Regions from separate parts of the Homo sapiens genome. Here region 1 is linked to region 2. Evidence: fine-mapped expression QTL. A gene starts in region 2. The other region holds a variant in brackets. All regions are shown on one strand. Distances are from middle to middle. Region 1 overlaps TIAM2 (TIAM Rac1 associated GEF 2). Region 2 holds the start of TFB1M (transcription factor B1, mitochondrial).

Region 1 (2,893 bases), 57 kb after region 2:
TGATACATTCAAATTCTAGAGAATCAAAACTGATGATTTGTCACACAAGAAATAATACAACTTTCACATTGAAACATGAGGCACATCAAGCTTATGTTTCTACAAGAATGCAGCTGAGCAGATGTTACTTTAAACTTACTTACTTACCTTTAAAAAGTACATGTACTGATTTAGCTTTGGAGAATGCTTTCCCATTGTGTGCTTGCCTCGCGCCTCAGGTTAGAGCTGCCTCAGTGGCGGGCCGTGCCTCTTATCTGGTGCTATATAATCCAAGAGGCTCCTGCCACTCTCTCCAGCTGTCAGTAGCCAGCAACTGTGTTGTGTTGTTTTCAAATGAGGGTTAAAAAGTGTCATGATTTGCAGAATTTAAGTAAAATTCTTATTTTTCTGTCTGTCTGTCTTCCCCTCAGAATGTTATTCCCTGAAGCGCAGCGCTTGGAAAGCACGGGCAGGCTGTTAGAGTTGGCAGACATAGACCCTACTCTTCGGCCCCGCCAGCTCTCCATCTCACACTTTAAGAGCCTCTGTGATGTATACAGAAAAATGTGTGATGAAGACCCACAACTCTTTGCATATAATTTCAGAGAAGAACTCAAGCGAAGAAAAAGCAAAAATGAAGAAAAAGAAGAGGATGACGCAGAGAATTACAGACTCTAGCTGCTGCCTGGGGGCGAGCAGCCTACCAGATGTCGATTTGCACTACGTGGAGCTTCTTATATAGGTACTCTTTTGTCTTTACAGAATGACGATACAAATGCCAATGACCAGATGTGACTTATTTTCCTTTTACTATACAGCTTGGCAGAGAAAATAAATATCATCAAATAAGATACAGTACAAGCTTTCTTTTAATATATACTGTATAGATAGTTATGACATGTTTAGTATAAACAGCATCTATTACAATCTATCTTACAAAAATGAAGTATCTGCACATTTTGCCCCTAAACCACATTAAAATAACTTAAATATGCTTTAAATAAAGCAAAAACTAACAAACAGCTGAAAGAAAATGCCCAGAGGATTTTAAAAAATGGCCCTTTGAAAACTATTAATCACGACTTCCCCAGCCTTACTTTTTCCACATAACTTAATTATTAGAATGTAATTTTAAGGATCCTAAATCATTTGATACCTGCTCAAAGTGGATATAAACTAAGTAATTTACAGATTCTGACCAGTTTCATCTAGGTTTCTGATCCACAATAAATTAAAATAACTTAAATCTTTACAACCATTTTGTGGGAAAATGTATACTGCACAAAACCCAGGAATGAACAGTTTTTTTTTTTTTTTTTTTTTGCAATTTCCACTTTACCACCAGTTTAAAAGTAAAA[T/G]GAGGAATTTAACCCATATCTGGATTGAATCATACTATGATTTTCCGTGGCTCTCTGTTTCATAAAAACACTCCTCACTGACAACAGATGTTAAACTCTGGACACTGAATTCTCGCTCTAGAACAGAATTTAGGTCGATGGTGGCATTTTCAGACTGACTGTCAAGGGACTGGTGACGGATCTGCGCCTTGAGCAAAGTTCCTCTGTCCCTCTTGGTGCTGTTGGCTTTTCGTTTAATGGGGCAGAAGTGCCCCCGGACCAGTTTGGGCTGCTCTCCTCCTTTCTGACCCTCACCCGACTCCGGGCCAGGCTGCTGCTCAGCCTCGGGGTGAACGTCTGGGTCCTCGGAAATCCTCAGTCTCTGGAACTGAATTTCGATGTCTTTAGTAGGGCTGCCCTGCTTCACAGTCTGACGGTGGTCATCATCTTCATCGCTCAGGATGTCACTCTCTTTGATGAGATTGTCGGCAAAATCTGCCAAGCCGGGGTGTGGGTATTTCCCGGGAGAAGTGCTCTTGGAGTCCTGCCTGCCCTCAGCCGTGGGGCAGCCGCTGCTCTGGGTGCCGCTGCTCAAGCTGCCCTCGTCAGAGTCCAGCAAGGTTCCCTTGCCAGTCTCACCGGTCCACTCGTTGCTGGAGGAATTCTTCAGGACTTTTAAAGACCTGGATGAAGCTACAGTGAGAAAAACACATTTCGCTGTGATACAGAAACAGGTTACACAATGTGTAATGTTTGCCTCAAAGCTTGTGTAAGATTTAACATTAAGATTTTATTTTATGATATGACTTCAGTTAGCAACTATCCTGGTAATTAGGCAAAAATGTAGCTACTGAAAACATGGACATTTTTGACTTAGGTTTACAGTTGTAAGTTAGGCAATTCAGCATTTTTAGATTACCAGAGCTCAATTATGTAAATAGAACTAGACACTAGAAACTACTACATGGGCTAAGATTCTTATTTTGCCAAGGAGTAAGTTGAAAAGTTAATTGGTAATAATAAATCTAGGCTCCTTTCTTTCACTAAGGTGCTTTGTAATTTGATCATGAAGATCACACCATATTCCTATGCATCTTCTCACCTTGTGGATTTCCCTTGCTGCTCAATTAAAAGTAGAAAATGCCCCTCCCCCCCCCTTTTTTTTTAAAGACAGTGTCTTGCTCTGCCACCCAGGCTGGAGTGCAGTGGTGTGATCTCTGCTCACTGCAACCTCCGCCTCCTGGGCTCAAGTGATCCTCCCATCTCAGCCTCCTGAGTAGTTGGGACTATAGGTGCGCATGATCACGCCTGGCTAATTTTTATATTTTTTTTGTAGAGATGGGGTTTTGCCATGTTGCCCAGGTTGGTCTCAAACTCCTGTTCTCAAGAGCTCAAGGGATCCACCTGCCTTGGCCTCCCAAAGTGCTGGGATTACAGGCATGAGCCACCATGCCCAGCCTAGAAAATGCTCTTTATCTCTCATATGAGAACTGTCTCTGCTGGAATTTCAAAACAACTTTCTGAAATTTTATGTTATAGGTGTGTGTGTGTGTGTGTGTAGTTCTGTTCTCTTGGAT
Region 2 (2,916 bases):
TAAAAATAATAAGCTGATACTTGAGTGTGGCCAGTGAGATCAGAACTCAGAAAAAACACAACTCAGGTTGTCTTCTCTCTGTACTTTGCTGTCTGACTCTGGGCATTGTCAAATGACCTCACCTCCCCTATTTCTTCACAGCAAACTAAGAATAATAATCTCATTCACATGGGACCATTGTGAGGAGTACGGGAAATAATGAATATAACTGTGAAATAATGCTTTGTCAGGTATACTGTGTTTTGGACGATAAGATATCTGAATCAAGAGTTTGTACTTCCAGTCTACATTTTGATGCCACGTTGGGCAAATCTCCTTACCTCTATGGTAGTCATCACTATTTTTTAAAGCTAGGAGATTATCTCAGTTCCTTTTAAAACAGCTTTTATAGAAGGTGGTTGAGTTTTCCACTGGAATTTCAAAGTACTCCTCATTTTTATATCCATACCCATAGTTGTTTCGTTTTCCATTAGCTTTTTTAAAAACTTACTAATTGAGGAACAGAAACTTTAAAATTCATTTGTGATCAACGCAGCAATGTCCAAACATAAGCAGGGTTAAAACAGCAAAATTCTCCCACCTATCAGAGAAACTTTAATTTTTTTTTTTTTTTGCTTCGTTGTTTTTATCTCGTATAACGGAAAGACAGAACTCATATTTCAGTCTTCTCTCTGTTCTTAGCTGTAATCCTAGCAAATCGAATGACCTCTTTACACTGGCCAATTATTCATCTGCCAAATAATAACAGCCACCACTGATCACGTGGGAGCTTACCCAATGCCATGCGTGCACTATGTTCTGAACGTGCACACCAGGCGATCTCTCTCATTTAGTGCTCACAATTTTGAGGTAGACATTAGCTCCATTTAACTGATGAAAAAACTGAGGCTGAACGAAGTTAAAAACCCATCATGCAGCATCTGCAGAGCGGCGGTTCTAAAAACGCCTCACAGTAAGAAAGAATTGCTAACAAACAGTAGCTTTGCCTCTAAGCACCCGCTTTTCCTCTAATATTCACAGACAGGTATTTAGAACGTTAAAGAGCCGGAAGCCCTTGGGAACTTCAGGGCGGGAGTAAACCGGCTGCACCTCTCAGAGCAACTCCTCCGAAAAACCCCACCCTGTCCAGGCCCCGCCTCGTCCCGCCCTCCTGGGCGCTCTCCCCATAGCCCGCCCAGGAGAAGCCTAGTCCACCCGGCTCTCCCCCGGCTCTCACAGGCGGAAGCCGCCGACCACCCAGCCTGCCCTTCTCGCGGCAGGACTTAGCGCATGCGCTCTCAGCACGCCGGGAATTTCCTGTCCGCGGTCATCGCTTCCGGTGGGATAGGTCTGACCAATGGGGCTGACTCCGAGGCGGGCCTTAGGTCTCGCAGGTTCCTCCCCTGCGCGTTTCTTTCGGAGCGGCGGTGAAGGTCCTGGGTGAGGTAGGGTTGGATGGTGCTTGCCGCGTATCATGGCTGCCTCCGGAAAACTCAGCACTTGCCGTCTCCCTCCGTTGCCCACGATTCGAGAAATCATTAAGTTGTTAAGACTGCAAGCAGCGAAGCAGCTATCACAGAATTTCCTCCTGGACTTGAGGCTGACAGGTGGATGGCTTAGCAGTGCTCCCCGGATGTCTCCCCAGTGTCCGTGGGGGCGTGGGCCGGGGGGTCTTGCACGTCCCCGCGGGCGGGTGTCCAGGCACTGGCGTGCGACGGGCTTTTGGTCAGGTCCTTCGACCTCTTTGTATCAGAACTCCGGTCCCACCGCCCAGGAGACACGTGAAGTGCGTTGATTGCTCACAAAACTCCGCGTTCGGGGGGGTGTAGCCTGCCGGCAGGCTGCATAAATGCCAAGCTCCCTAGGGGAGGAAGGGTTCATGGGTCGTGAAAGGCGCTAGTGAATATTGGAATCTGGGTCACTGTGAAATCAATCATTCTGAAATAGTACAGCACATGCTGACTGCAGTTGCTTTACATGCAGTTTAAAGTTACCAGAATTTAAATTGATGCGAGGATTTTATCAATAACTTGGTGAAAAGAGTATCCCTCGTATGATTCGTTTTTTAAACGTTTACCTGTTCAGTCTAAGCCTCGGGGGCGCTAATATTCATTCATAAGTACATATTACACAAGCAACATTGTGCTAGTGCCGGGGGTAGGATATGGGCGTGAACAAGGCGGTGTTTCCTCGAGGAGCTTACTTTTAGCAAGTTTACATTCCCACACCTAATTGTTTAAAGTTACTTTTTATGAGATATAATTTATGTGCAATAAAATTAATAAGTTTGAAGTGCTCAATTTGATGAGTTTTGACGAATGTATTTATATATTGGTTTAACCACCATCACCATTGCTTAGTGATGTTCTATGAGATGAGGTTGCAAAAATATATTACAAATACGTCTACTAAGTCACGGCTGGAGTACTTAGGTTTTGAGATTTTCATATTTCATTCTATTTAGTCCCACTTCAGAAGTTGAAAAGAGCAGTAAATCACACCCAAAAAGTTCATTTTCACTTAAATGAAGCACACTCCAGAAAACATAAAATGTTTTATTTCTTGGACATGTAGTCTTTATTCTGCCTGTACCAATATGACTTTGGATAAAATAATTTAACTCAAGTTTTCTCTTTTTTTTTTTTTTCTTTTTTTAAGATGGAGTTTCACTCTTGTTGCCCAAGCTGGAGTGCAATGGCATGATCTCAGCTCACTGCAACCTCCGCCTCCCCGGTTCAAGTGATTCTCGTGCCTCAGCCTCCCAGGTAGCTAGGATTACAGGCGTGAGCCACCGTGCCTAGCTAATTTTGTGTTTTTAGTAAAGACAGGGTTTCACTATGTTGCTCAGGCTGGTCTCAAACTCCTGATCTCAAGTGATCCACTCGCCTCGGCCTTCCAAAGTGTTGGGATTACAGGTGTGAGCCACCATGTCCAGTA

Evidence for each region.
Region 1: its variant is fine-mapped to the expression of TFB1M in whole blood (TOPMed, PIP above 0.99).

The regions. Positions count from the first base shown.
Region 1 is chr6:155,255,600-155,258,492 of GRCh38, reverse strand. It overlaps TIAM2 (TIAM Rac1 associated GEF 2), which reads right to left. Exons shown (of 27, transcript NM_012454.4): 27 at 770-2,009. The coding sequence ends at 1,372. It overlaps TFB1M (transcription factor B1, mitochondrial), which reads left to right. Exons shown (of 7, transcript NM_016020.4): 7 at 411-2,359. The coding sequence ends at 657. Among named protein-coding and RNA genes, the nearest start is that of CLDN20, 7.0 kb to the left of the region's middle. The variant T/G (reference allele first, on the strand shown) is at 1,338.
Region 2 is chr6:155,312,966-155,315,881 of GRCh38, reverse strand. It overlaps TFB1M (transcription factor B1, mitochondrial), which reads left to right and starts at 1,398. Exons shown (of 7, transcript NM_016020.4): 1 at 1,398-1,586. The coding sequence starts at 1,454. RefSeq lists enhancers at 584-633, 1,184-1,233, 315-1,305, 1,304-1,623 and a silencer at 1,054-1,133.